Linked DNA regions of Homo sapiens. The protein of the gene in region 6 purifies or fractionates together with the protein of the main gene of each other region. This does not show direct contact. Each region holds a gene or a part of one and is shown on either strand. Other genes may lie near its edges.

Region 1 (4,804 bases), on a different chromosome or scaffold from region 6:
TTAGACAAGAGCCAGAAAGCATGCCACGTGACCTCAACAGGCTTACAAGTGCCCAGGGTAGATCTCAGTGCGCAGCGGGCAGGGTACACACGTCAGGACCCCGCGGAGCCACAGAGAGTCCAGCAGCCTGGCAGAAACCACATCCCATCCCACTCTGTGCCTGTGGCAGCGCCCCCATCAGCCTGTGGCAGCACCTTTCCGTGAACTCTAGGGGACCAAATTCTTCTCTCCAAAGCCTTTTTGGCAGATGCCAGCACGCAGTCATTCACGGTTGATGGTTGGGAAAAAGAAGCTGTTAGCCATCCCAGGTCTAGGGAGCACAGCAGGCCCTGATCTGGAAACAAGAAAACCACCACACACAGCTCACAAGGCAGACCACACAATTGTGGATCCAGAAGCCTCCGGATGAGGCAGAAGATACCTGGGAGATGTGGATGGACAACCGTGCCATCCAGAAACACCCGCAGAGTCTAGAAAACCCAGCAGGTGATTTAGAAAGGGAGAGGCCACAGTGCTGGCTGGCAGGGGATCTGTAGACAAGGGTCTCATCCCAAGAAGACCCCGTCCAGCCCAGCACAGGATAGGAGGACAGCCTGGGGACAGCCAGGGCACTGCACCATGTGGACATGCATAGTGGACCCCTCCAGAAAACAAGGAAACCGATAGAGTGGGGAGAAGTGCCCGAGGCATGCAGAAAGAAGAACATGTCAGCTGCAAGACCAGAGGCTGGTCATCCGGACGCCAAACCATCAGATATGCAGAAAATTAGGAAATTGCAGTCTTTCCCCTGTCTACATTCTCTTTCCAGAAGAGTGGTTCCCCCGACAACCACATGCACGGAGACTCTGGCCCTCTGAGCAAGGGAGTCCCCTATTCAAGCCTTGGGGTTTCTAGAACACCAGATTGTGGACATCAGCCCAGGGATCGTGCTGACTACCATGTTCTTTTACAGATGTGGAAACCGAGGCCTAGAGAGGGTCAGGGACTTGCCTGAGGTGACCCCGGCGGCCTCTGGGCATTTTGAGGTTTATTCTCGCATAGCTCCCTCACCTCATCAGCTTGTGGGGAGCCGATCAGAGATAGCTGTGGTCCCCTGGGCAGCTTCCTGTTGGCCTGTCTTAGAATTTTGCTATATTTGGGGGGTGTGAAGAGTGGATATAGATGTGTTAAAACTGTTTAAAGTGGAGAAGGAGGACCGGGCCTGGTGGTTCATGACTGTAGTCCCAACGCTTTGGGAGGCTGAGGCAGGAGGATAGCTTGAGCCTGGGAGGTTGAGGCTGCAGTGATTGCACCACTGCACTCCAGCCTGGGCGACAAGAGTGAAACCCTGTCTTGAAAAAAAAAAAAAAGTGGGGCCGGGCATGGTGGCTCACACCTATAATCCCAGAACTTTGGAGGCTGAGGTGGGTAGATCACTTGAGATCAAGAGTTCGAGACCAGCGTGGCCAACATGGTAAAACCCCGTCTCTACTAAAAATATGAAAATTGGCCAGGCGCAGTGACTCACGCATATAATCCCAGCACTTTGGGAGGCTGAGGCAGGTGGATCACCCGACGTCAGGAGTTCAAGACCAGCCTGGCCAACATGGTGAAATCCCATCTCTACTAAAATAGAAAAATTAGCCAGGCACAGTGGTACACACCTGTAATTCCAGCTACTCGGGAGGCTGAGGCAGGAGACTCACTTGAACCTGGGAGGTGGTGGTTGCAATGAGCCGAGATTGCACCATTGCACTCCAGCCTAGGCGGAAAAAAAAAAAAAAAATTAGCCAGGCCTGGTGGTAGGCACCTGTAATCCAAGCTACTCCAGAGGCTGAGGCAGGAGAATCGCTTGAACCCAGGAGGAGGTTGCAGTGAGCCGAGATCACGCCACTGCACTCCAGCCTGGGTGACAGAGCGAGACTCCATCTCAAAAAAGAAAAAGGAGAAAAAGTCCCACTCCCATTGGAGTGAGTTCATTTCCCAGATGAGAGCCCCCAGGAGCCAGGACAGGTTGGAGTCCCCACTGTCACCCAGAACAGGGGCGGGCACTCAGGAAATGCTTGACGAATGACAGAGTGAGCCCCACTTGTCCACCTGTTCTTTCCAAGCCCTCAGTATGCACAAGGCACCACCATCTGGGACACAGATGGATCAACCTACAACACCCCTCAACACACACAAACCCTTAAGCTGCTCACAGTCTTTCCAGGCAGTGGAGTGTAGTAGAGACAGGCTGCCTGGATTCGAATCCTAACTTTGCCACTTAGTAGCTATGTGATTTTGGGTTTTATTTATTTATTTATTTATGAAACAGTCTCGCTCTGTGTCACCCAGGCTGGAGTGCAGTGGCACAATCTCCACTCACTGCAACCTCCATCTCCTGGGTTCAAGCAGTTCTCCCTGCCTCAGCCTCCCGAGTAGCTGGGATCACAGGTGCCCACCACCACACCCGACTAATTTTTTTATTTTTAGTAGAGACAGGGTTTCGCCATGTTGGCCTGGCCGGTCACAAATTCCTGACCTCATGTGATCCACCTGCCTTGGCCTCCCAAAGTGCTGGGATTACAGGTGTGAGCCACTGTGCCTAGCCTAGTTGTGCGACTAAGCTTGACTAAACTTCTTGAGCTCCGTTTTCTCATCTGTAAAATGGGGATAATGACGGTCCCTATGATTGAACACGTTAATGCATGTAGAGGGTGTAGAGCCGTGTCTGGTATACACTAAGCCGTCAGTATAGACAGTAGTAGTAGTTGTTGTCATTATTGCCGGGAGGAGACCATGATGAAGAACCACAAAGGACCATAGCACAGGATGGAAAATTAGAAAATGCTCATGGCAGCCCCAGGGAGCCTGCAGGGGAACCCAGGGCCTGGCTTTAGGGGTGGAGGTCAGGGAGTGCTTCCCAGAGGAAGTGGCAGTTGAGTCCCACAGCCATAGGATGGCCAGGAGGTGAGGAAGGCCCTTTTCAAAGGGAGAGTGTGGTTTGAGGCAGGGTGAGGGAGCGGAGAGTCATGCTGTGTGTCTCCCCCAGCTTTGCTGTCTGCATGCCGACATGCTGGGCTCACTGGGCCCCAAGGAGGCCAAGAAGGCCTTCCTGGACTTCTACCACAGCTTCCTGGAGAAGACAGCGGTGAGAGACCTTCAAGCTGCCCCAACCCTGCAATCCCTGTTTGGGCCTGCAGAGTCACCATGCGGTCCCCAGCCTCTGCCCTGAGGGCAGCTGCTGACCCAGGCCTTCCCCAGCACCCTCGCTTAGACCAGGGTTCCTGGCAGTCCTCCCGGCCTGCATCTCAGCACACCAAGTCCTCCTCTTCACCCCATTCTCTCTCTTGAGCAGGTTCTCCGGGTGCCGGTCCCTCCCAACGTCGCCTTTGAACTTGGTAAGGAGAAGGATGGGATGAGGGAGAGGTGTCTAGCGGGGACCACACCTCCCAGGAGGCCAAGGGGAGGGAGGCCGCACTCCCATGCTCTGCTCGGACAGCCGAGATTCATTCATTCCTTCTTGGCAGCGGCCTCAGGACGTGTGGCTGTTGGAGTCCAAGGGTGGGTGGGGACCGTGGTCCAAGCCACCAGGGAGCTGGACCCTAGCCCCCATGTGTGTCCCTGCAGACCGCACTAGGGCTGACCTCATCTCCGAGGATGTCCAGCGGCGGTTCGTGCAGGAGGTGGTGCAAAGCCAGCAGGTAGCCGTGGGCCGGCAGCTGGAGGACTTCCGTTCCAAGCGGCTCATGGGCATGACGCCCTGGGAGCAGGAGCTGGCCCAGCTGGAGGCTTGGGTTGGGCGGGACCGAGCCAGCTACGAGGCCCGGGAGCGGCACGTGGCGGAGCGGCTGCTCATGCACCTGGAGGAGATGCAGTGAGTAGGCCAGCCCTGGTGGGAGCGTCGCCCCTCCCCAGCACAAGGGCACCCGTGCTACCTCTGGCATGTTCCATCCCGTTTGCAGGTTCCCTCTTCAGGGTCAGAGTTCATTTCTTGGCACTGGGGGTCTTCCTCTACCCTGGTGTTTTAACTCACCTTGAATCCGAGTCTTCCCTTTCCAGCTTTGGGGTTCCCTTGTCATTTCTGGGTCTTGTCCATGATCTGGCACTTGGATCCCATCCTCCTGGATGAGAGACCTCCCTCCCTCTTATGACAGTCCTTCCCAATCCCTTCCACAGTGTCCCCTCTCTGTCTCTCTTCCCCCTGCCTATCCCAGGACAGCAACCCTGAGATGTATCCTGGGTGGATGGGGACCCCAGGCCTAGCAAATATGTCACAAACATCTCTCTTCCTCCTACAGACATACCATCTCTACCGACGAAGAAAAGAGGTGAGGGGGGCAGGGGAGGCGTGCGGCCTCCTGGGTTTGAGGGAGGAGGGGGCTGAGGGCCTGGACTCCTGGGTCTGAGGGAGGAGGAGGCTGGGGGGCCTGGACGCCTGGGTCTGAGGGAGGAGGGGGCTGGGGGGCCTAGACGCCTGGGTCTGAGGGAGGAGGGGGCTGGGGGGCCTGGACGCCTGGGTCTGAGGGAGGAGGGGGCTGGGGGGCCTGGACGCCTGGGTCTGAGGGAGGAGGGGGCTGGGGTCCTGGACGCCTGGGTCTGAGGGAGGAGGGGGCTGGGGGCCTGGACGCCTGGGTCTGAGGGAGGAGGGGGCTGGGGGCCTGGACTCCTGGGTCTGAGGGAGGAGGAGGCTGGGGGCCTGGACTCCTGGGTCTGAGGGAGGAAGGGGCTGGGGGGCCTGGACGTCTGGGTCTGAGGGAGGAGGGGGCTGGGGGGCCTGGACGCCTGGGTCTGAGGGAGGAGGGGGCTGGGGGGTCTGGACTCCTGGGTCTGAGGGAGGAGG
Region 2 (4,804 bases), on a different chromosome or scaffold from region 6:
TAACCCAATAGAATGTTTTGACATGAAGACAGACAACAACTCATAGAAGGATCCTCCCACCTCAGCCTCCCAAGTAGCTGGGAATACAGCTGTGTAGCACCCGTGCCTGGCTAATTCTTGTAGAGATGAGGTTTCACCATGTTGCCCAGGCTGGTCTCAAACTCCTGAGCTCAAGCAATCTGCCTGCCTCAGCCTCCCAAAGTGCTGGGATTACAGGTGTGAGCCACCACATTTGGCCCTGGAAAGCACTCTTCACTGGTTTACCACCTCCCAATATTTTCCCCTCTTCCTCAAAATATAAACATTCTGTGGTCAAATATATCAAGATAATATTTAAATAAAAAGTATAGCATGCAGTATATACTAAAGCAGTATCTTTACTATGTATGGTTGTATATACCATCAGACCTAGGGAAATCTATAGGATTTTTTTGGTTTAATTCATTATAATCAAGATAAACAGCACTGTTACCAGGGTCCATTTATCAAATCATGGACAACGTATTCTTCACTAGCATTTGACATCATAATGGCATTATGGGACATAATGGGATTCTGACTGAACAAAGCTAGAAAATTGCTGATCATCAAAATGCAACTGGAGACAGACATAATCTTTATTACATGCTAAGCAATGTACCAACTCCTAGATGATTGTGGCTTTGTTTCATTCTCCCAAAACTATTAAGCAAATATTTTGCCCACTCCGTAGATGAGGAAATGGAGGTTCTTACTGCTAGAAAGTGGGAGAGCCAAAAATTAACCTGGATCAGAGAAGATTCTGGGAAGACAGTAGAGTAGGAAGCACTAGGAATCTGTCTCCCCACCTAGGCAACTGCACTGGCAGAATCTGTCTGATGTAATTATCTTGGAAATCTGGAGTCTACCAAAGGCTTGCAACTTCCAGGAGAAGGCTTGGACTGTCAATTACAGTTAATTTTAGTCTATTTCAGATCTTAGCACAGTTAACAGCTACCCATCCCCCATTCCCGGCCCCATGGCAGGCAGCTGTGCACTTATTTCTGGAGCAGTGTGCACACAGCTTACAAGAACCAGGTGGGCAAAAAGAACCCTGTCCTCCAATTACTGGGGATCTGTGCTCTGATTACTCATTGCTGCTTCTGATCACAGAAGAGCAGAGAAAGAGGTAGGTAGTAACTCTTACATTTTTCCCCATTGTTACAAACTGGTTCTCCTCTGGCTGAAGTGACTGCTAGGGGATTAAAAGGGCCAGTCCTCTTTTTTCTTCTTCCCTCATTTTTCTTTTTTCCCTTCTTCGGAGCCAGATATTAAAGACTTGTATATTCAAAACCAACCACATATACTGGGGAAATCAGAAAGCTACTATGCTTAGTCAGGAAAAAGTACAGGCTTAGAAAAGGTCTGAGACCTTAGGTTTACATCTCAGGCTGGTCCTCAGCACAGAGACAGTCTACAACCATCAAAAAAACAAACAAACAAATTAGCTAGGTGTGCTGGCATGCACCTGTAGTTCCAGATACTCAGGAGGCTGAGGCAGGAGGATCACTTGAGCCCAGGAGTTAGAGGCTGCAATAAGTCATGATTATTCCACTGCACTCCAGCCTGGGTGACAGAGTGAGATCCTGTCTCAAAAATAAAAAGAAACAAAAACAACCCACAGCAAATCCCGAAGAAAGGGGAAAATCTTATTTTCAGAGTTACCACATTATTAGATTCAAATATCCAATTTTCAACAAAAAAAATAAAAAAACTTACACAGAAACAGGAAAGGATGGTCCATTCCAAGGAGAAAAAAATGTATCAACAGAAATTGTACCTGAAAAAGACCTGATAGCAAAGCTACTAGACAAAGACTTTGAAACAACTCTCTTAAGGATGCTTGAAAAACTAAAGAAAGACACGGAGAAAGTCAAGAAAACAATGTATGAACAAAATGGAAATATAAATAAGAGACAGAAAACCTAACAAGAACCAAAAAAAATTTGGAACTAAAAAGTACAATCACTAAAATAAAAAATTCACTAGATGGATTCGAGAGCAGATTTGAGCAGGCAGAAGAAAAAATCAGCAAACTTGAAGACAGGACAATGGAAAGTATTGAGTCTGAGGTACAGAAAAAAAAAGGAGTAAAGAAAAGTAAACAGACAATAAAGGGCCTGTGGGGCCATCAAGCAGACTTGCATGCACATTGTGGGAGTTCCAGAAGGAGAAAAGAGAAAGAGGCAGAGAGAATACTTAAAAAAAAGAAAAAAAGCCTGCAAACTCCCCAAAAGTCATAAGAGACATGAATATACAACATCCCAGAAGCTCAACAAACTCGAAGTAGGATGAACTCAGAGACCCACAATGAGACACATTATAATTAAACTGTCAAAAGACAAAGACAGAGAATCTTGAGATTCTCAAAAAAATTATCAGAACACTTCTCATCAGAAACATTGAGGCTGGAAGTACTTTAGTACTTTAAAGTACTTCTTTTAAAATACTAAAAGAAATGTCAACTAAGAATCCTATATCTGGCAAAACTGTCCTTCAAAAATGAGGCAGTAATTAAGACATTCTCAGATAAAAGCTAAGGGAGTTTGTTACCACCAGACCTGTCTTGCAAGAAATGCTAAAGGGAGTCCTGTAGGTTGAAATGAAAGGGCGCCACACAGGAACTTGAAGCCATATGAATAAATAAAGATCTTAATAAAGGCAAACACATGGACAGTTAAAATTCCACATTTTGTTTTTTACATAATTTAAGAGATTAATGCATTTTAAAAATTATTAGTTTATGTGTTTGAACACACAATGTATAAAGATGTAATTTTGTAACATCAACAGCTGAAAGGAGTGGGGATGGAGACTGAAAGGAGCAGTTTCTGCATGATATTGAAGTTAAGCTGATATAAATCCAAATGAAAGTGTTATAACTTTAGAATATTAAGTGTAACACAACAATGTGAATGTACTTACTACCACTGAACTGTACACTTAAAAATGATTAAGATACAGCTGGGCACAGTGGCTCAAGCCTGTAATCCCAGCACTTTGGGAGGCCAAGGCAGGTGGATCACTTGGGGCCAGGAGTTTGAGACCAGCCTGCCCAACATAGCGAAACCCTGTCTCTAGTTTAAAAAAATAAAATAAAATAACCTGGTGTGGTGGCAGGTGCCTGTAATCCTAGCTACTTGGGTAGCTGAGGCAGAAGAGAATCTCTTGAACCCGGGATGCAGAGGTTGCAGTGAGCTGAGATTGAGTCACTCCACTCCAGCCTGCGTGACAGAGCGAGACTCTGTCTCAAAAACAAACGAAACAAAAGATGCTAAATTTTATGTTATGTGTATTTTACCGCAATAAATTGGAAAAAATCTGATTACTTCTACTGCACTAGGCTGTAAGGCCTGGGAAAGGCAGGAAAGAAAGATACTGAGAAGGGGGCAACACAGAAATGTTGCCATTGGTGGACTACAATAAAGCAGATATAGAAATGGTGTTACACACTTAACACAGGGAGAGCACACAGCATTACCTGGCTTCTACTCCAGGCCTCGTGGGTGGCTTTCCTGGTGGTGGCCGAGGAAAGAACTGAGACGAAGTTGAGCTATTGACCTGATCTGTGTTGACCCATGAAACTGGCCTTGGAATTTTGCTCTTTCTAGACTGGGAGATGATGGGTGACAGAAAGCTATCTTCAGCTGACCTACTCAGGTGAGAATCTACTGTCAGTCTTGAAAAGGGAGTGAGCACTTCCTCCTCACAAAAGGGAGCAGGAACAGTAGCTAGTTTCTCCTCTAGCAATTTATCAGAGGCACTTGAGAGGTCGCCAAGGAAGGACTTGAATTGTCTTTTTTCCACCAGAAGCTTGACTAGGTCTGGCTGATAGGCTTTCTTTTGGAGGAGCTTTTCTTTTGCAGAAACTGGAGAGGATGATTCCAAAGTTGAGTCTATCTCTTGTGCTAAAACAGGGATTCGGCTGTGTCTAGTTACAAAGGATGACCTAACCATATCCTTCCGGGTTGGGGCACCATGTTCATTCTCTGAAACACAATGAAATAGTTCTCCATTTCTAGGGGTGATTTTCTCTCTCTTGCCCTCTTGGTGCAAAAAAGTAGAGAGGTCTCCTTGATGACCTGGCAAGTCTTCACTCATGATGTCATCATCCTTAGATATCTTATTTTTTTGCATTTCTGCCACTTGGCCTATCTGACCTTCAACATGTGGGTCAATGTCTCTGGAAGAAATTTCTGAAGTTCCAACTGTCAGAAGCTTCATTATCTCATTATTTTTGTCTTGATTTGGCACCACACTAAAAGTCTGTGTTTTTGTCACATCAAGAGGTTCAGTAGTAGCTGAGTGATCCTTTTCCACAATTACCAAATCTCCTGGGAGAGAGGAGATCTCAATACAATGCTGCCCTCTACTTAACTTCTCATCTTCATTATCTGACTCTAAAAGGATGCTTTTCTCTTCAGTTTCCCCAGGGAGATTTTCAAATTCTCTCACAACCAGTCTATTATGATCAGGAAGTTCTTTTGGTCCCAGGTCTTGAGATTTGTTACTTTCTCTAATGTTGGGTAACATGTCATGACCAATGTGATCTATCTGAAGCCCCAAATCTGTTCTGCTTCCTCCACTAGGAGGTTCACCCTCTGTCACAACCAAGCCAGAGAAGTTTTCCCTTGGAGAGTAAAGTTCCACAGTGGGCTCCATGGGCTGAAGATCTTTCTTCTCTGGCTGCTGACCACAGTGAAAGCTTCCTGAAGTTGACTGTGTAGATGCCACAGAAGGTCTAGGAATTGTAATCTGGAGAAGGGGAAGAAAAAATTAAAATGCA
Region 3 (4,804 bases), on a different chromosome or scaffold from region 6:
TCAAGATATCAAGACCATCCTGGCCAACATGGTAAAACCCCGTCTCTACTAAAAATACAAAAATTAGCTGGGCATGGTGGCGTGAGCCTGTAGTCCCAGCTACTCAGGAGGCTGAGGCAGCCCGGCAACAGAGACTCTGTCTCCAAAAAAAAAAAAAAAAAAAAAAAATTTGCCTGGGGTCGTGGTGGGCACCTGTAGTCCCAGCTATTTGGGAGGCTGAGGCAGGAGAATCGCTTGAATCCAGGAGGTGGAGGTTGCAGTGAGCTGAGAGCGAGACTCTGTCTCAAAAAAAATTAAAAAAAAAAAAGAAAGAAAACCTGTAAAAATCTGAATTAGAATTACACTTACACTTCATTCTTTAGGCATAATCTTCCAGAATCCATTTTAAACATCTTACCTGTGCTTTATTTGATGTTTTTTCCCATCACAATTAGACACATAGTTGACTGCCTCAAATCTAATGTGTGTCCAATAGAAGCTAAAGATTTGCTGCTTTGACACACTGATTTCCTTCTTGCTTCTATTGTGTTGAGTCTGTTTATGAGACTTGTTCCTCTCTAGTATCGATGCTTTCATTATCCTCTTTTTCATTCATTTTTAGAAAAATAAATGTAAAATACAATACAATCCAAATAACAGCCCTCTGCCTACAGATGAACATGTGAATGCAGCTGAAATTGTACTGTTGGCTGGCAGGTATGCCACCATGTGACAGCTCAAAGTATTCCCTTGCTTGTCAGCTCATGCTGAATTTGAAAGGGAGTTGAGGTTGGCAATGTATAAAATGTGGCTTTACAGGACATAAGAACATAGGTGACCTTTCCAGTCTTGGGCCATTTTGTCTCTCCCTCAACCTCTTCCCCCACCTCTGAATGCTGGATTCTGTTCCCAGGGAGTTCTATGGTTGGGATCTAATGCTGCAGGTACCCTGAGGTCATAAGCACATGCAGGCGGCAGGCAGACACTCACGTGCGCACGCTCTGCTGAATGACCCGGATCCAGGTGCTCCGGTCATCCCGGGATGCTGTGTGCACCTCGTACATCTCAGGTGGGGCTGCGCTGATCAGAAACATCCCTTTCTCCTGGTTGGCAATGTCTCGTACGATTAGATTCTGCAGCGATACCACTGAAGGCTTGTCCTGCCAGTCAGGGGAAAGGAAGGATTAAGCCTGGGAATCCTGTCCCTTGGCATATTTAGGCCTTCAATCCTTCTGGACGAGGACTGAAAGGACTGAAGAGTCATCTTACAATACCAGTTAAGAGCCAGGCACTGGTGCCAGCCAGAAGGGACTTAGAAATGTGTGCAACCCTTGACAAATTATTTAACTGACTTGAAGCTTTACTTTCATCATCTATAAAATGAGGACGAAAATAATCTTTTCCCACAGGTGTAAAAGTGCCTGTGCACAGTAACAGTACCTGTGAGCTGCTCTTATTTTTTATTATTACGGTAATAGTAACAATTATAGCTGTTTGACTCTGGGGGACTCCAGAGCTCTCGTGGGCTTGGGCAGGAAAGCAAGAAGAGACTAAAACACTTGTCTGTGCTGAGAAAGGTGAAGAATGAATGTCTCACCAGGGTAGGAAAGATGTACTTCTGGTCCTTTTCCTGGAGAAACACCAGTACATCTGTCATCAGCAGCACTAGCACATCTGGAAGGGGATGAAGGTGGGAGAACAGTCAGCACTAGACGGTCTGAGCAGCTGCTTCCCTCTTTCCCAAGGACCAGGCTTATCCCATCAGGTTAGAGCTCCCAGTTTCCCTCTTCCTGGCCTCTCTTCCCTCTGGCTGCTTGCACTTTTTCAGACCTCTCACACCTCACCCATTCTATTTTTTTTTTTTTTTTTTGATACAGAGTTTTCATCTTGTTGTTCAGGCTGGAGTGCAATGGTGCAATCTTGGCTCACTGCAACCTCCGCCTCCCGGGTTCAAGCGATTCTCCTACCTCAGCCTCCCAAGGAGCTGGGACTACTACAGGCGTGTGCCACCATGCCCGGCTAATTTTGTATTTTTAGTAGAGACGGGGTTTCACCATGTTGGTCAGGCTGGTCTCAAACTCCTGACCTCAGGTTTATCCACCAGTTTCGGCCTCCCAAAGTGCTGGGATTACAGATATGAGCCACCGCGCCTGGTCACACATTCTTACAGCTTAAAAACAGTGTGGGTGGGGGGTGGGGGGCGGGCAGGGTGCAGAAAGATTCATGTGCTATCAGACAAAACAGCGTTGTGGGCTAGCAGGAACCACAGGGATCACTCAGTGTCTACAGAAAACCCTTTCTACCTGACTGATTCAGGTTTCTTAACCTAGGGCCTACAGACCCCCTGGGATGTCAGGCTTCAGTGGCTCTGTAAACCTTCTGAAGGTGTGTAAATAGTTTTACATATTAACATAACTCGTGTATTTTTTTGGGTGACAGGGTCCAAGATTTTTGTGAGATTCATAAGGTTCCCCAGAGCAAGAGGGACCATACTTTTATTTTTTATTTATTTTTAATTTAATTTGATTCTATTATTATTTTTTTGAGACGGAGTCTCACTCTGTCGCCTAGGCTGGAGTGCAGTGGTGCCATCTTGGCTCACTGCAACTTCTGTCTCCCAGGAAAAAGCGATTCTCCTGCCTCAGCCTCCTGAGCAGCTGGGATTAAGGAGCACGCCACAACACCTGGCTAATTTTTTGCATTTTTGTAGAGACGGGGTTTCACCACGTTGGCCAGGCTGGTCTCTAACTCCTGACCTCAAGTAATCTGCCTGCCTTGGCCTGCCGAAGTGCTGGGATTACAGGCATCAGCCACTGCGCCTGGCCTATTTTTTATTTTTTGGGACCAAGTATCGCTCTGTCGCCCTGGCTGGAGGGCAGTGGTGTGATCTCTGCTCACTGTGACCTCTGCCTCCTGAGTTCAAGCGATTCTCATGCCTCAGCCTCCCAAGTAGCTGTGGCTACAGGTGAATGCTGCCATGCCTGGCTAATTTTTGTATTTTTAGTAGAGATGGGGTTTCACCATCTTGGCCAGGCTGGTCTCGAATTCCGGACCTCAGGCGATCTGCCTGCCTGATTCAGCCTCCCAAAGTGCTGAGATTATAGGGATGAGCCACCGTGCCCAGCCTGGACCACATTTTTTAGCCTTTAAATTCCATTTCTAATATCTAACTAAGGAAGACCTTTACGGCTATCTGACCTAAATTCTCCCTGTCCTGGCATATTCCCACTTCTAATTTTGAGCTTGGTAGGGAGGGAGAAAGTTTCCTTCCTCTCGCAGAGGACTGAAAGACCATCCCTCACCCACCCATCTCCTTCAACCCCAGCAGGCCCCTGCTTCAATTTCTTTCTCTGCTTCACACTCCAAGCTCTCAGATCCTATGGGGTCAGCACTCCAAGACTGAGGGAGGAAACAAAGATCAATTCCATAAAACTTGGATGTCACAATCAAGAAAACAGAGGGCGAGGCATAGTGGCTCACATTTACAATCCCAGCACTTTGGGAGGCTGAGGCAGGAGAATCACTTGAGGCCAGGAGTCTGAGCAAGACTAGCCTAGGCAACATAGCAAGATCTTATCTCTACAAAAAATTTAAAAATGTGCTGGGTGTGGTGGTGCAGGTCTGTAGTCCCAGTTACTCAGGAGTCTAAGGCAGAAGGATCACTTGAGCCCAGGAGTTTGAGTTACAGTGAGCTATGACTGCACCACTGCACCCCAGCCTGAGCAGCAAAGCGAGACCCTGTTTCTAAAAAAAAAAAAAAAGAGAGAGAAAACATACACTCCTCCTTTGCCCTTGGGGATTTTACTAAACTGTGGGCACACAGAAGGGGAGGGCTTTTGCTAAATGCTTCAGAAATAACACTCTCCAGCCTTGCTATTTTTAATCCCCCATGGTTTATATTCTTAGCTGCTGCGTGGGAGAGATGGGAAGGAGAGAAAGGGATAAAGGAAAGAGGCTGGTGAAGACTGACAATATCCAAACCCAGGGAGCAGGGATTTCATGACACAGGTACAGAGGCTCAGGCAGGCTTTGGCCTCAGGTATCACAGTTTCCTATTGTCCCTCACATCTCATCCCCAAAGCCAAGGCCTGCTATTCTCTTGCTTTGATTTAGGTGAGAAAGACTTTGCCAGTGCAGACAAATTCTGGAAAGAGAGCCTGGGAAAGTGTGCCCTGGCCCCTGATCTGCTCCCTCTGCCCTGCTGTCTCTTCTCCTCCCTGCCTGTCCTTCACCGGCTCAGTCCCCTCCTCTGGGCCTCCTCTGGCTGCGCTCCCCAAAGCTCTTGCTTACTCCCATCCCTGGTAGCTGGGATTCCAGCTGGGGGAATCAACTGATCCTGTCCTCCAGTCTGAGAGCTTCTTTGTCTTCCTCAGTAAAACTAGTAGCTCTCTAGGCATGCAAGGACCAAAGAAATTATAAAATACTGATAGGGAAGGCCCTGTATGGTCCATAAAGTTAACTGCAGAATTCAGGCTTTTCTGCCACAGAGATCCTATTTTTCTCTCCCACTGAGTCTCACTGTTGTATGGGCTGCATAAAGGGAGGTTGATTCTTTTTTTTTTTTTTTTTTGAGATGGAGTCTTGCTGTGTCACCCAGGCTAGAGTGCAGTGGTGCAATCTGGGCTCACTGCAAGCTCCGCCTCCTGGGTTCACGCCATTCTCCTGCCTCAGCCTCCTGAGTAGCTGGGACTATAGGCGCCCACCACCACGCCCGGCGAATTTTTTGTATTTTCAGTAGAGACAGGGTTTCACTGTGTTAGCCAGGATGGTCTCAATCTCCTGACCTCGTGATCCGCCCGCCTCGGCCTCCCTAAGTGCTGGGATT
Region 4 (4,804 bases), on a different chromosome or scaffold from region 6:
CATATTTATGGCTTACCTGGCTGTAGTGCGTGTGTGAATGAAGCAGTCTTATTTTCAAGCCACTTTTCATTTGGGCAGCTAAACAGTTTCTTGAATCATCTTCAGTTGTCTTTGGGTTACTCTTGACTGAACAAAGGCAGAGGGGAGAGAAAAAAGGAAAATAGGAAGAAACATGAATCTATCTATAGAAAAGTAGGCTGGGTGTGGTAGCTCATGCCTGTAATCCCAGCACTTTAGGAGGCCAAGGTGGGAGGATTGCTTGACCCCAGGAGTTCAAGACCAGCCTGGGCAACATAGGGAGAACTGGTCTTTAAAAGAGAAAGTAAAAAGGAGGGGAAAAAATGAGTAGGACATGGTGAAGGACCACAAGTCTAATAGTACTATTTGTTTTATTGGGGCCACCCCATGCCCTGGGTTGGTTGTCCACACTGTGGTCACAGCCTTAAACAGTTCTGGAATCATAGCAGTCTCTCCATTGGTTGGCTACTTGTCTTCCCTCTTTATGTTGGTTTTTTTTTTTTTTTTAAGCCGTGGAGGGTTGGGAGAGAAATAGGCATTTTATTTGATGCTGATTCCCTGTAGCTGCCTCTTCCTTTCCTTGTGATTTTTGCCAGGCAGGTGACTGGCCTTTCGTTTGTGTGGTTCATCTGCAGTGCCCTACCCGCTTCCTTTGCTCTTGCCAAGGCCAGTGGAGAGCTCCTAGCCAGATCCTGCTGTCATCCCTTCTAGAAACCGACTAGACTGTCTCCCTGATCCTGACTTCCTAAGCCCTCATGCCCCGCCTCCTCCTCCACCTTTCTTTGAAAGTTGTTTTTTCACTTCTCCTTTGTGCAAGTGGTTTGTTTGAATGTATAAACTTTTTTTGCTGTATATTTTTTTTAGTCCTCTTAATTTCCCCCCCGTTGATGGTTTTACCATTACAATGAAAATGGAAACAGCTGACATTTAGCCAGCCTTGCCTATAAACGCGGCTCTAAGTGATACAGATTAACCACCAAGGCAGCTCCTAGAGAGGGAGAGAGTTATTTCCAGTGTAGAGATGAGGAAACTAAAGCACGGAGACATTGAGTAGCTTCCGCGAGTTGCCTAGCAGTGTAGGCAGAGATGGGATTTGAATCCAGGCTGTCTGAGCGTAGAACTGGTCTTGTAAACTGTCTATAAATTACTCAACCAAGCGCATCTTCCATGTTTTTCTTCTATAAATAGGGATGAGGTCAATGTCTTTGCACATATCGATGCATCCATCCAGGTATTTTTCTCAAATAGAACAAATTCCTCAAAATAGAATTACTGAGTCAGGGAATATGCCTTTTAATTTAATTTTTTTTGATATTGCCAAATTGTCCTTCATAAAATCTGTCGACAGTACATGAGTGTGCTCAGTACCCCAAAATCCTGGCCGGGTCTACATATTTTTGTACATTTTGCCCCAAAGAAAGGCATCTCATTTTGGTGTTCATGTGTTTTGTTACTCGTGAGCATGAATGCCTTGTTGCTGCTGTTGGTTGTTCTATGCCTGCGTTCATGTTTGCATCCTTTTTCCCGGTGTGCTCACGTCTCTTCCAGGTCTGTAGCGTGCTTTGTAAGTGAGGGATGAGCTTTCTGTCCTTGTAGAGATTTGTCCTTTTCTCCCACCCACCTCCCGGGAGAAAAGCTGTGGGTCACTGCTTTCACTGCACAGCACAGAGTAGAGACCCTGGCTTCCCCCAGCAGGGTGGGGGCTGGGGCTTAGGCTGAGCGGAAAAGGACAGGAGGAGGATGGACTGCTGGTCCCCTTACTTTCCCCTAGTCACCTTCCCTCCTTCCAGGAAGCAAGGGCTGGGAGCAGCTAAGAGAAGCTAGGATTTCTTAGGAGAGCTTGACGCCTATTGGTGAGGAGGCATTGGAGGGGGAACATGCCCCTTACTCATGAACTGAACAGATATTTCCCGCCAGTCCATCGTTGGTTTTTTTAACCTCACGCTAGTCTTTTTTGCGGTGGAGAAGTTTTTCTTGTTCATGGCCCTATCTGTTGAGCTTTCCCAAAATAGCTTCTAGTAAGTGTTGTGTACTCCAAGCAATCTGTCCTCGTTATTTTTCTATTTTAACTGGTGCTTACTCTGAATTTCTACTTTTAGTCTTTTGTGTTAGAGTTCCACTTTGAACCCAACGACTACTTTACCAACTCAGTCCTGACAAAAACCTACAAGATGAAATCAGAACCAGATAAGGCTGATCCCTTTTCCTTTGAAGGTCCTGAGATTGTGGACTGTGACGGGTAAGAAAATGTCATTCTACCTTGTTTTTCTGAAACAAAATCAAAAGATAATTTTGTAACTTGATGGGTAAGATAGAAGTAAGGAATAAAGTACAGTCTTGAGTCTGCTTAAAAGCCTAAAAGCCTGGTAGATGTATATTTCAATAGTCTTTCAGTTTGGGAATGCTCATAGTGCAGAACTTGGAGATGGCGGCTGAACCTGGGAAATGAGTCACGTGGTTGCACATGCAAGCCTTTGGGATAGTGCCCTGTTTCTTCATTTTAATGAAAGTAGTGGATTCTCTAGACATCGTGAATTGAAGTTCTTAAAATTGAATCCATGGATTACCCTCAGCAAATAAATACTTATTGAATGAATGAGTCTGAGTCCAGGGCTATATTGATCAGCTGATTGCTTTGGAAATAGGTGGGGGCAGCATAGCTGTTGTTTGACTCACTGATTTCAGTCTTTATAAATCACTAAAGAGAGAATTTGGTTTAGAATTAATTTCTCCAGGTTGGGTTGACTGAGAAATGGTTTTAGTCTTGACTTGAAACAATTACGTTTATTTACCAGAAGTAAATAGTAATTGTTAATTCAGGACTTTATTAAAATCCTGCTAGAGTAATTTAGAAAGATGATTTTCCAGGGCCAGGACATCATGTGAGAAAAAGGCCTGGCCTTACCAAGCATGTTCTTAAGCGGGCAGTATTGAGATCTGCCAGGTGTTGCCTGGGTCTGTGGTGATTGTGTGTTAGAGAGAGCGTGCTGTGCTCAGCCCTCGCCAGCATCCCTGGGGCTGGAGTGGTCTGCACTGGCCATCAGTATTCCCGGTGGCCACCTCTTTCCTTTTTTCAGCTTGTCGTGCTCAGTTGGCTGCTTTGAACAGCAGCAACTCCTCCTTCCTTGGGAAACCGCGGACAAGTTCTTGTGCATCATGCAGACTTGACGGGGCTTTGCCACAGAATATACATTTCAGAGTCCTGATGAAATGTCTTGGGAAAATAATACCATTGTTCCAGAAGTCTGAAGTTCCAGTGGTCACACCCAAGTTGAAAGAGGACCAGGCTGTTTCTCTTTTTGCCAACCTCCAGATGAACTTCATGGGCCATTGTATTTGGTTTGCAGATTGGTTTTATTTCGTTTTCCAGGTTTGGCATAGAGCTGTGGTTTGCTTCCTGCATGCATTTGTAATGGATTTTTCTCATGGATTGTGTGTTCCTGACAGCTGTCTTGTCCTGGTAGGTGTACTATTGACTGGAAGAAAGGAAAGAATGTTACTGTCAAAACCATCAAGAAAAAGCAGAAGCATAAGGGTCGAGGCACTGTTAGAACAATTACGAAACAAGTACCCAATGAGTCCTTTTTCAACTTCTTCAATCCATTGAAAGGCAAGTCTGTTGGTTGTTAATATTCATTATGTTCTTATATAAAATAATTTTGGTCACCTGATAGATTCCTAACACCCAGAGACTTTAGTCCTCTTTTTTCAGGCAAGTGTGGTCAGTAGGGGCACATTGCTGTGTCCCAGGCTGTTCTGTTGGTGCGCTGGCAAGTTTATCGCGGGGGGCAGAGGTAGCTAGGACAGTAAGAGTAGGATTGTCATCTTCTGCAGGAAAGGGAAGAGCTTTACTCTGCTTGGCTGTAGCCCAGGCAAAAACTTGCAGTTCTGTTTTAAGAAAACTGAATCGAGTATTTGCACCTGGGCTGCTTCCTCACTTGGACACCTGGAGCACCCTTCTCCACCAGCTGGCATTTCTGCCCCGCTGTTGTGTCTGGTTCGCACCCCCCGGGGACCACTCCCAGCCTCGGAGAGCTGCTGGGTTTGCTCTGCAGGTACCCGTTACTGCTGTACGCTGGTTCTAGTTGTGCTGCTTTTGGATCATCTGCTTAGTCCCCCTTTTCTTGTAATTTTTTATGCATAATTTGATAGAATTTTTTGGAATTTATATATTGTAAGAAACACAAGTAGTTGGGACTTTCATTTTTGAAAAACATCGGCAGAATCACAGCTTGGAAGCTGCTTCTTTTTGTTTATTTATTTATTTTTTAAATTTTCCTAAGTGGTAAAATAAAGATGAGACCTTTGAGCTAGTAAAGGTTGACCAATTGATTTTAAGAGTAAATTTCTTGGGATTTTTCATATAATTTCCTAATCGCGAGAAAATGTGAAGGTCAAGCAACTTGTCAGTGTTAAAATATCCATATTCTCTTTAGTTTCCATGAACTAAAACATAATTTGAAGTGAAGAGATGCCAGCCCCTGCTGCAGATAATCAGTGAGTGTTTGTTTGTATGTGGGGCCACAGGGCGGATCTCTTCTCCAGTCTGAGTGATTGATTTTTTGATTTTGTCTCTGAGCTTAGCACCCTTATTTATCAAGCTGCCCTTCAGAGTTCAGTCCATTATTTTAATTGTGGTGCCTATTTTCTGCAATTAGACTTTGAACCTAGAAGATGCAAATACATACGGTTTGGGGAATGAGAGCAGTCATAAATTTAGATATTACATTTCCTTTTTTTGGAAGATTCCTTTTAGACACTTGGGTTGGGCATACTGGAGATTGTC
Region 5 (4,804 bases), on a different chromosome or scaffold from region 6:
CCTTTCACAGGCCCATTTCACAGATACTGAGGCCCAAAGGCGCAGGGCTCAGGCGTCCCCTACGTGTCGTGTCCCCAGGCAGGAGAATTACTTGAACCTGGGAGGCAGAGGTTTCAGTGAGCTGAGATCACACCACTGCACTCCAGCCTGGGTGACAGAGCAAGACTTCATCTCAAAAAAAAAACACAAAAAGTGAATTTAAAATGCTCCCTGAACTCCAGCTGGGGTGCGCAGCAGGAGGCTGGGTCCGTGGGGCTTCGGGGGCTGGGCTGGGGGTTCAGGTGGGTGGGGGAGTCAGTGCTGTGGGGATAGGGCTCAGAGCCCAGAAACAGACAAGCCCACACAGGTAGCCAGTGTCGACGAAACAGGAGAGGCTGGGACCTGTGCCCTGGAAGGACACAGCCAGCGGGTCCTGGGTCACCCACTCCGGGGCTGACCGGGCACAGTTTCACAGAGCAGTATGGCCCAGCCAGCTGTGAGAGGATCGGACAGACGGGCGGAAAGGAGGGGAGACAGCGGGTGTGCTCGGGGCTGTGCCGGGAGGGGTCCTTGGATGGAGGAGGGGGTCGCCAGGAGGCATCTGCATCCCCGGGGTGGTGAAGACCCAGCGTGTATGGCCGACCTCGAGGACAGGGCGATTGCTCCACCAGAATGTTCCCAGATGGCACAGATGCTTCTGGTTCTGGCACTGGGACCTGCAGCAGGATTCCCGGGTGGCTTAAAGAGGTTCCTTGAAGTTTGTGATCAGGAATTCAAAGTAGCGCAGATTGGGACGGCTGGGCCTTCTCCCCTCAGCACACTCCGCGAAGGGCAGTGCAAACGCACGCTGGCAGGAAGTGGCTGGGAAGCAGGCAGAGAGCGACCAGGAAGCGGCCAGGAAGCAGGCAGGAAGTGGGCAGGAAGCAGGCAGAAAGCGGCCAGGAAGTGGCCAGGAAGCGGACAGGAAGTGGCCAGGAAGCAGGCAGGAAGTGGGCAGGAAGCGGCCGGGAAGCAGGCAGAGAGCGGCCAGGAAGCGGGTAGGAAGCGGGCAGGTTTTACCGAGCGGCGTGACGGCTCCAGAGGGGATGATGGAGTCTGGCAGAGAATGGGGCGGGAGGCTGGAGGTCCTGGGCAGGCCCTGGAGCAGAAGGGGAAGGGAGGGGTGGGGTGATGGGACTGCAGTGAAGGTCTGGCCCCACCCGAGCAAGGTGAGGGTAGCACAGGTCATTACATGTCAGGGAATTGCTTGGCCAGGGTTGGGGACAATTCTCTCTTATTAGAATTGCCAGGAATCAAGACAGGGTGGAGCTAGAACAAGGGAGAGGGAGTGGCAGAGAGATGGGGTGCTTGGGGCTCTCATGTGATGCCCTGAGGACACTGCATGAAGACTCACGGCTGAGCTGGGTGGAGGTGGGAGAGGTAGGCAGGCACCAAGGCCCAGGGCCCTGAGAGGTGAGGGGAAAAGCGCTCCTGCCTCACGAGGCCACAGGAGCTCCCTCAGCACGGTGCCTGCATGGAAGAATTGCTCAGCTAACATGAGCTCTGAGGCTTGCGCACATGTTACAGAGAATGAGGTGGAAGCATCCACGCCAGGAGGTCTCCAGGCCATCTGGTCAACAGAAAGCCAACAACATGCAAAGGACAGGAGCCCACACCTGTGCCGGTCTGTGCCAGAAATGCTGGAAGGCGGCCGGGCGCGGCGGCTCACACCTGTAATCCCAGCACTTTGGGAGGCCGGGCGCGGCGGCTCACACCTGTAATCCCAGCACTTTGGGAGGCCGGGCGCGGCGGCTCACACCTGTAATCCCAGCACTTTGGGAGGTTGGGCACGGTGGCTCACACCTGTAATCCCAGCACTTTGGGAGGCCGGGCGCAGTGGCTCACACCTGTAATCCCAGCGCTGTGGGAGGCCAAGACGGGCAGATCATTTGAGGTCAGGAGTTTGAGACTAGCCTGGCCAACATGGTGAAACCCCATCTCTACTAAAAATACAAAAATTAGCTGTGTGTGGTGGCATGCACCTGTAATCCCAGCTACTCGGGAGGCTGAGGCACAAGAATCACTTGAACCTGGGAGACGGAGGTTGCAGTGAGCTGAGATTGTGCCCCTGCACTCCATCCTGGGCGACAGAGCGAGACTCAGTCTCAAAAAATATAAAAAAATAAAAATAAAAAATCATCATTCTAAGTCAAGAAAAATTAAAATTTTAAATTATTAGCATGTATTTACCATTTATCTTCATATTGTGTAATACTTGGCTTAAATGCAAATAGAATAGGATTTAACTCATACAGAATCAACAAAATTGTACAATTCACATTTTTATTTTAATTAATTTATTAGTTTGTTTATCCATCTTGACAAGGTCTTGCTCTGTCACCCGGGCTGGAGTGCAGTGGTAGGATCACGGCTCACTGTAGCTTAAACCTCCTGGACTCAAGCCATCTTCCTGCCTCGGTCTGCTATGTAGCCAAGACCACAAGTGTGTGCCACCACGCTTGGCTAATTTTTATATTTTTTGTAGAGATGGGGGTCTCCCTATGTTTCCCAGGCTGGTCTCAAACTCCTGGCCTCAAGCGATCCTCCCGCCTTGGCCACCCAAAGTGCTGGGATCACAGGCATAAACCACCAGGTCTGGCCTACATTATTTATTTATGCATTTAGTTTTGAGACAGGGTCTCACTATGTTGCCCAGGTGGGAGTGCAGCCTCAAGCTCCGAGGCTCAACAACCTTCCCACCTCAGCTTCCCAAGTAACTGTGACTGCAGGCACACACCAGCCTGGCTAGTTTCTTTATGTCTGTAGAGACGAGGTCTCCTTGTGTTGCCCCGGCTGGTCTCAGACTCCTGAGCTTAAGTGATTGCTGCACTGTTCCCCGGGCAAAGTTGCACAATTCGCATTTTGTAACTTATAGATTAATATTTATTTTATTTTCACCAGAACGGTAGGAACCCTGCACAAAACTGGTTTTATTTTGCTCTTTACGTACGCACATCCCACCAGCACCCTCTACCTTTGGCTTCCGGAGGGTTGCCCTCCCTGCTCCCTCCCTGCAGCTCCCTGCCCCCCTGCTCCCCTCCCTGCAGCCCCCCTGCCCCCCCGCTCCCCTCCCTGCAGCCCCCTGCCCCCCCCGCTCCCCTCCCTGCAGCTCCCTGCCCCCCTGCTCCCCTCCCTGCAGCCCCCTGCCCCCCCTGCTCCCCTCCCTGCAGCTCCCTGCCCCCCTGCTCCCCTCCCTGCAGCTCCCTGCCCCCCCTGCTCCCCTCCCTGCAGCCCCCTGCCCCCCCGCTCCCCTCCCTGCAGCTCCCTGCCCCCCCGCTCCCCTCCCTGCAGCCCCCCTGCCCTCCCTGCTCCCTCCCTGCAGCCCCCTGCCCCCCCACTCCCCTCCCTGCAGCTCCCTGCCCCCCCGCTCCCCTCCCTGCAGCCCCCTGCCCCCCCGCTCCCCTCCCTGCAGCTCCCTGCCCCCCCGCTCCCCTCCCTGCAGCCCCCTGCCCCCCCTGCTCCCCTCCCTGCAGCCCCCTGCCCCCCCTGCTCCCCTCCCTGCAGCCCCCTGCCCCCCTGCTCCCCTCCCTGCAGCCCCCTGCCCCCCTGCTCCCCTCCCTGCAGCCCCCTGCCCCCCTGCTCCCCTCCCTGCAGCTCCCTGCCCCCCTGCTCCCCTCTCTGCAGCCCGCTTTCCCCCTGCTCCCCCCGCTCCCCTCCCTGCAGCCCCCTGGTCCCCCTGCTCCCCCCGCTCCCCTCCCTGCAGCCCCCTGCTCCCTCTGCTCCCCTCCCTGTAGCTCCCTGCAGCCCCCTGCTCCCCTCCCTGCACCCCTTTTGCCCCCTGCTCCCCTCCCTGCAGCCCCCTGCACTCCCTTCACCCCCTCCCTGCAGCCTGCTGTGCCCCCTGCTCCCCTCCCTGCAGCCCCCTGCACCCCCTCCCTGCAGCGCCCTGTGCCCCCCACTCCCCTCTCTGCAGCCCCCTGCGTCCCCTCCCCTCTCTGCAGCCCCCACTGTTCCTCCCACTGCTGCCCATCATTGGCTGCTTGAAAATGTCAGACTCCAAGGGCCCCTGTGACTAGCCCAGCAGCAGCCCTAGGTCTCCACCCTGCCTTGGGTGGGGTCCGGGATAGGCCTGGCCTCCCCCCGCCTGCTTGAACCCACTGAGTATGCCCCCCTCCCGCCGCAACCTCAGAATTCCAAAGCCAGCCTGGTCTCCAGCTCAGTGCGGTCCACACGCAGACCCTCCTTGGATTTCGAAAGCCCGTGTGGCTTTGCCAGAGGACATTCCAATCCTCGATTGTGGCTGGGGATGGAGGGAGATCAACCCATCGCACTTACAGATAAAGAAACTGAGGACGGAGTTTGTCCCAACTCCGGGGCCAGGGTCAGTGTCCTCCGAGGGAGTCAGGGAGGTGGCTGGGGTCTGCCAGTGGGGGGGACACACGACCTGGGACCCCCAGGCCACTTGAGACTCTCTGGGCTCGTTGGGCTGGGCCCAAGCTCCCAGGCCCCCTCCTCTCCATTTCTCAACCTGCTGCCACCTAAGGCAGATACCCTACACTACTGCCTGGGGGGCCTCAAAGGGTGATCACCCAGCACAAGCTCTCCTGCCTGGCCTGGGACCGAGAGTCCCAGAAGCCCCTGGGCTGGCCGGATGCTCAAGGCCTCACTGAGGGCATGCGTATCTTCGGAAACAAGAACCAGCTGACATGTGTGAGGCTTTAGCCCGGCTCTCCCTGGGGTACTGTGCGAGCCCTCAAGGAGGTGGCTGTTCTGTAGCTGGAGAGCTCCGTGGGTGGCAGGACTGAACTTGAACACCAGAAACAACCCCCAAGCCTTGTGACCTGGG
Region 6 (4,804 bases):
AAACCAACAGGAGCAAGAGAAGGAAGAGAGCAGCAGTGAAGAAGAAGAAGAAAAAGCAGAAGAGCGGCCACGAAGACCTTCCCAGGAGCAGTCAGCCTCAGCCAGTTCTGGGCAGCCTCAAGCACCCCTGAATAGGGAGAGGCCAGAGTCCCCCATGGTGCCCTCAGAGCAGGTGGTCGAGGAAGCTGTCCCGTTGCCTCCTCAGGCCCTCACCACTTCCCAGGATGGACACAGAAGGAAAGGGGACTCAGAAGCTGAGGCACTCTCAGAGATAAAAGATGGTTCCCTTCCACCCGAACTGTCTTGCATCCCATCCCACAGAGTTCTAGGGCCCCCGACTTCAATTCCACCTGAGCCCCTAGGCCCTGTATCCATGGACTCTGAGTGTGAGGAGTCACTTGCTGCCAGCCCAATGGCAGCTAAGCCCGACAACCCATCAGGAAAGGTCTGTGTCAGGGAAGTAGCACCAGATGGCCCACTACAAGAAAGCTCCACAAGACTGTCCCTGACTTCAGACCCCGAGGAGGGGGACCCACTGGCCTTAGGGCCTGAAAGCCCAGGAGAGCCTCAGCCTCCACAGCTCAAGAAAGATGATGTCACTAGCTCCACCGGTCCCCACAAGGAGCTGTCAAGCACAGAGGCAGGTTCCACAGTTGCAGGAGCAGCCCTCAGACCCAGCCATCATTCCCAGCGTTCCAGGTATGTTCCTCTGAGCACTGCTTCAGGGACAGGGTAGTTATCTGTGGTGAGTGTCTCTGTTTTTTCCAGGGCTGGCAACTCATCCCTCAGAGACTAATTTACTCATGTCTTCATTCATTAGTTGATGTATTAATTCAACAACACCTACCATGTACAAGGCTCTGTGGCGGGCCCTACAGTAGTGTGGCGGGCCCTGTGGTAGTGTGGCGGGCCCTGCGGTAGTGTGGCGGGCACTGTGGTAGTGTGGTGGGCCCTGTGATAGTGTGGTAGGCAAGGCAGGTTTGGTTCTTGAGTTTAAGGAGTGACAGTCAAGTGGAGAAAACAAATACATACTTACATATCATAAAGTATGATAAGTCCTTTTAAAAAAGAAACAGGGTGCTATTCTAAAGGAGTTGTTCCACTTTAGATAGGGTGGCTAGGGAAGGATTCTGAGAAGGTCACATTGAAAAGATGACTCTGGCTGTAGGTTCTGGAGGGGGCCAACCGCACTAGGAGGCCACTGTAGGGTGTGGGAAGAGATGGTGGCAGCGGAGGTGGGAGGAATTCCTGAGCAGTCACCAACGCTGTTGAATTCTTACCCAAGGGCCGGTGACCCTTGTAGGTGGTGGGTACTGTGACCTGGAGCAGGAACAATAACATTTTCTATGACTTGATTTTCCTTCAGTCTCTCTGGGGATGAAGAGGATGAACTGTTTAAAGGGGCAACTCTGAAAGCTCTGAGGCCCAAAGCACAGCCTGAGGAGGAGGATGAAGACGAGGTGGTAAGGAAATCCCAGGCACTGTCAAGTCCTCACACACCCACCTGGGGGCTCTTCCCTACTGGCTCTGAGAAGAGAAATGGAGCCTGTTGGTGGCCCACTCCCTGGACTCTGTGTGCAGGGCCCTGTGGGAGCAGGCTTGGGGCTGGGCTGGGAGGGCGCAGCTCTGTAAGCAGAGTAGGGGACGGTCACATACCACTTTACTTTTGAGAAAGAATCATAGTCTCTGTCCATGCAGGAATTAGTCCCCTCAGAGGAAGAAAGCTGAGCTGCTTAGCCCCACATTGGAATGCTGAAGCCTTAGTTTTCCCCAAATCTGCTAGGATATTATTTATATTTTAGAATTGGAAAGGACTTTGAAGATCATCTTGCCTGGCATCCTTATTCATAGATAAAAAACCTGAGGCTCAAAATGATGATTTACCCAAAGCCACAGAGTGAGTTAATGGCAAAGCTAGGACTAATCCCCAGGCTCCTGTAAAGACCTCCTGTTCCTGAGCATTTTCCACTTACTCAGCCTGCTTTCCTGCTGCCTTGTTTTGTCATCACAATATCCCTGGGCACAAAATGGGTTCAGTATTAATAGCATAGCTTCACAGAACAAGAGTGAAGGCCAGGAGAGGAGGGCACTGATAGGGACTGAATTAGAACCCCGGTTCTCGCCTCTGCTGCTCCCCGCTGTGCTAGGTTACAACCGTTCTGGCTGTCCCTAGGCCATTTTGACTGCTCTGAAATGCATATGGAGAACACAGGTGGGCTTCAGGCTCAGTCCATCTAAAGGACAGAAATATGAGGGTGAATGGGGCAAATTTTGTCCCCTCATGTATCAGCCAGAGTGGATTTTGCCTTTTGCCAAAACCTTGAGCAGAGAGCTGTGATGGATCTATGCTCCAGCTTGCATGTATCGGAGCCCTTCCCTCTTGCCTGTGTTCCTTTGGGGAATGTACCAGTTCCTTCCATGAGTCTTTCTTCTCAAGAGTTAAATTTTCATTTGAGAATCCAGAATAGCAATTCTGCCCTTAAAAAAAGGAAAAAAGGGGGAAAAACCAAATTGAGTATATTCTAAGTGACTGCCCTAAATATAGTTGGAAGCTTTTAATTAGTGAGCATATTATTGGTATTAGTACCAATACTGTCCAGTTAACATGTAGTTCTTGGGTACTCTGAAAACGACTTCACAGATGTTGTCATTTAATCTACTAATCCAATGAGGTAGGTACTTTTATCCCATTTTATATATCAGAGGGCTGAGGCTCAGGAAGATTAAATAATTTAACTAAGCTTATATAGCTAGTAAATGTAGAGCCAGAACTTTAGTCAGGACAAAACAGAAGCTGTGAGCCACACTTGAAAATCCTATACTGTCAGAGTTAGAGATCACGTCATTGATGTCCAGAGAGAAGTACGAGGTCTGGCTAATTGGTAGTGACGTGGGATTAGCCCAGAGACTTGTATACACATCACGCTGCCTTCCCTTTTGCCTGGCCCTGTGAAGATGGATTCTGGTTGGCAGTTGCTCACCAGAGCAGAGAATGCCTTAGTAGAGACTATTCAGTTCGTGCCTGTCTGTAGCATCAATCCCTGCTAGCCGGGTAGGTCCTGTTCCCTTGCCAAGCCAGAGGAGAAAGGCCAGGAGCTCAAGCTGTGAAAAGAGAGGGTCTCTCATGGCCCATCAGTCCCTTTCACCCCCACTACCTTAGCTGGAAGGAGCGAGGGTGGTGCCAGTCAGGCTAGAGGTGTGGGAGGCTGTGGCCCCGTGTTCTTCACCTCTTAGGATTCTCCAGTTGGCCAAGCCTCCAAATTCAACTCTTTCAAATGATGGGATCACACCCAGAGCCAGTCAGGCCACCTTAGGCCACGACGACAGTATTTTTCCATATGTGATTGTCTTCTTCCCAACCTCCCTTCTTCCCACTTCCTCTCGCTCTCTCAGGGCTGCTTTGCTTCTGTTTCTTCCTACTGCTCCAGTGTTTCCTCTTTGACCCTTCTTTCTCCACACAAAATGTGTAAGTTACTGCATGAGAGGAAAATCTGTCAAATCAGTACATGTGCTTCATAAATAAATGATGAGATTAGCCAAACAAAGTTCATCTTTTGTCTCTGTTGAAAGACTGCCTCCCTTCTCTGCCTGCTGGTCTCAGCTTTATCTGGAAGCCTAGGTTTGCTGGCCTCAGAGTTGGCCCTGTCAGTACAACCTCCTTTCTGACCCAGAGCTGGGAACAGAAGTTGGATTGCTTCCACTCACAGGTGGAAAGTCCAGTGGTGCAGGCACAAGTGAGGACTGACTGCTCTTTCCTGTTTTATCAGAGCATGAAGGGACGCCCGCCCCCAACGCCCCTTTTTGGAGATGATGATGATGACGATGACATTGACTGGCTGGGATGAAGACCCAGGAAACTGGTGCAAAGGTTTCTCTGCAACCCTTCCCTAAGCATGATTTTGCACAGCCAACCCTGGGTCTAGGCGAACCACAGGGTGAGGTCAAGGTGAGCATTCTGGGAACAATATTTGGGCTCAGAGGGTGGGTTGGCCACCTTCTGAGCCCCACCCCCGCCAGACCTGGTGAAGAGGATCATAACCCTGTCTTCAAGAACACTGGGATTTCAGCAGCAAGTTGGAAGAAGGACTGGTAGGTTCCCCTCCAAGCCAGTCACCTGTAAGAGTCCTGTCCTCTGCCAGACTTTTTAATCTCTTCATTAACTCTCAGACTGACCTGGGAGCCCTCCTCTACCTGAATCCAGTGCTCAACTGTGCCCCGGCAACAAGACCTGGGCTGAGGTCTCCCTGGTAGAACTAAGGGAGATTACACCATCTAAATCCCAGTGCAGTCAACAGCCTGGCCTATAGTCCTGGGACATGTATCTTCTTCTTTGCCTTAAATCTGATACAAGAGGTCAATGACTTTGAAAATAAAACTAAAATAAATGTCTATAATGAAACTTGACCCAAGCCCTTGGAGAAAAATTGAGTTTGGTTCCAAGGGCTGTCTGTGCTCTTTTGGGAATCTAAGGGTAGGAGTCTTACAGATCTGGGTCAGTTAATGTGCACAAAACGTTGTGGCATATTTACTCCCTTTGATACCTAACCCTGGAACTTTTAGGCTTTCAAAGAAAGTCACCACTGTAGTCCTAGCTCATCCCTGGGGCATGATGGTTCTGTGAGGACCAGTCCAGTCATCCTCTTGCTCCTGCAGGCTTAGTCCTGCAGTCTAGGAAGCCATGCAAAGAAGGTGAGAGGGTCCCTTCTTTCCATTGTTCATGGCACCTGAGGGATTCTTCACTTTGAGAGCAGCTTCCATTCCCTTAGAACTCATGGGACCAGGACTTATGCAGAGAACAGTAGTG

Evidence for each region.
Region 1: the proteins of FKBP15 (region 6) and ARHGEF1 fractionate together in Homo sapiens (co-fractionation; one large-scale study listed by BioGRID). This does not show direct contact.
Region 2: the proteins of FKBP15 (region 6) and TTBK2 purify together in Homo sapiens (affinity purification with mass spectrometry, with the first as the bait; one study listed by BioGRID). This does not show direct contact.
Region 3: the proteins of FKBP15 (region 6) and ARHGEF2 fractionate together in Homo sapiens (co-fractionation; one large-scale study listed by BioGRID). This does not show direct contact.
Region 4: the proteins of FKBP15 (region 6) and NAP1L4 fractionate together in Homo sapiens (co-fractionation; one large-scale study listed by BioGRID). This does not show direct contact.
Region 5: the proteins of FKBP15 (region 6) and DPEP1 purify together in Homo sapiens (co-immunoprecipitation; one large-scale study listed by IntAct). This does not show direct contact.

Annotation. Positions count from the first base shown.
Region 1 is NC_000019.10:41,889,012-41,893,815, forward strand, and holds part of ARHGEF1 (rho guanine nucleotide exchange factor 1), read left to right. Parts: intron 1-3,013; coding exon 3,014-3,112; intron 3,113-3,319; coding exon 3,320-3,362; intron 3,363-3,591; coding exon 3,592-3,838; intron 3,839-4,262; coding exon 4,263-4,292; intron 4,293-4,804. UniProt on the Homo sapiens protein: Seems to play a role in the regulation of RhoA GTPase by guanine nucleotide-binding alpha-12 (GNA12) and alpha-13 (GNA13) subunits. Acts as a GTPase-activating protein (GAP) for GNA12 and GNA13, and as guanine nucleotide exchange factor (GEF) for RhoA GTPase.
Region 2 is NC_000015.10:42,748,475-42,753,278, forward strand, and holds part of TTBK2 (tau-tubulin kinase 2), read right to left. Parts: intron 4,774-4,804; coding exon 3,500-4,773; intron 1-3,499.
Region 3 is NC_000001.11:155,956,744-155,961,547, forward strand, and holds part of ARHGEF2 (rho guanine nucleotide exchange factor 2), read right to left. Parts: intron 1,654-4,804; coding exon 1,577-1,653; intron 1,140-1,576; coding exon 970-1,139; intron 1-969. UniProt on the Homo sapiens protein: Activates Rho-GTPases by promoting the exchange of GDP for GTP.
Region 4 is NC_000011.10:2,957,223-2,962,026, reverse strand, and holds part of NAP1L4 (nucleosome assembly protein 1-like 4), read left to right. Parts: intron 1-2,117; coding exon 2,118-2,257; intron 2,258-3,482; coding exon 3,483-3,628; intron 3,629-4,804. UniProt on the Homo sapiens protein: Acts as a histone chaperone in nucleosome assembly.
Region 5 is NC_000016.10:89,615,899-89,620,702, forward strand, and holds part of DPEP1 (dipeptidase 1 isoform a precursor), read left to right. Parts: intron 1-986; exon of another isoform or gene 987-1,016; intron 1,017-4,145; exon of another isoform or gene 4,146-4,339; intron 4,340-4,698; exon of another isoform or gene 4,699-4,804. UniProt on the Homo sapiens protein: Hydrolyzes a wide range of dipeptides including the conversion of leukotriene D4 to leukotriene E4. Hydrolyzes cystinyl-bis-glycine (cys-bis-gly) formed during glutathione degradation.
Region 6 is NC_000009.12:113,165,119-113,169,922, reverse strand, and holds part of FKBP15 (FK506-binding protein 15), read left to right. Parts: coding exon 1-699; intron 700-1,366; coding exon 1,367-1,463; intron 1,464-3,767; coding exon 3,768-3,845; 3' UTR 3,846-4,804. UniProt on the Homo sapiens protein: May be involved in the cytoskeletal organization of neuronal growth cones. Seems to be inactive as a PPIase. Involved in the transport of early endosomes at the level of transition between microfilament-based and microtubule-based movement.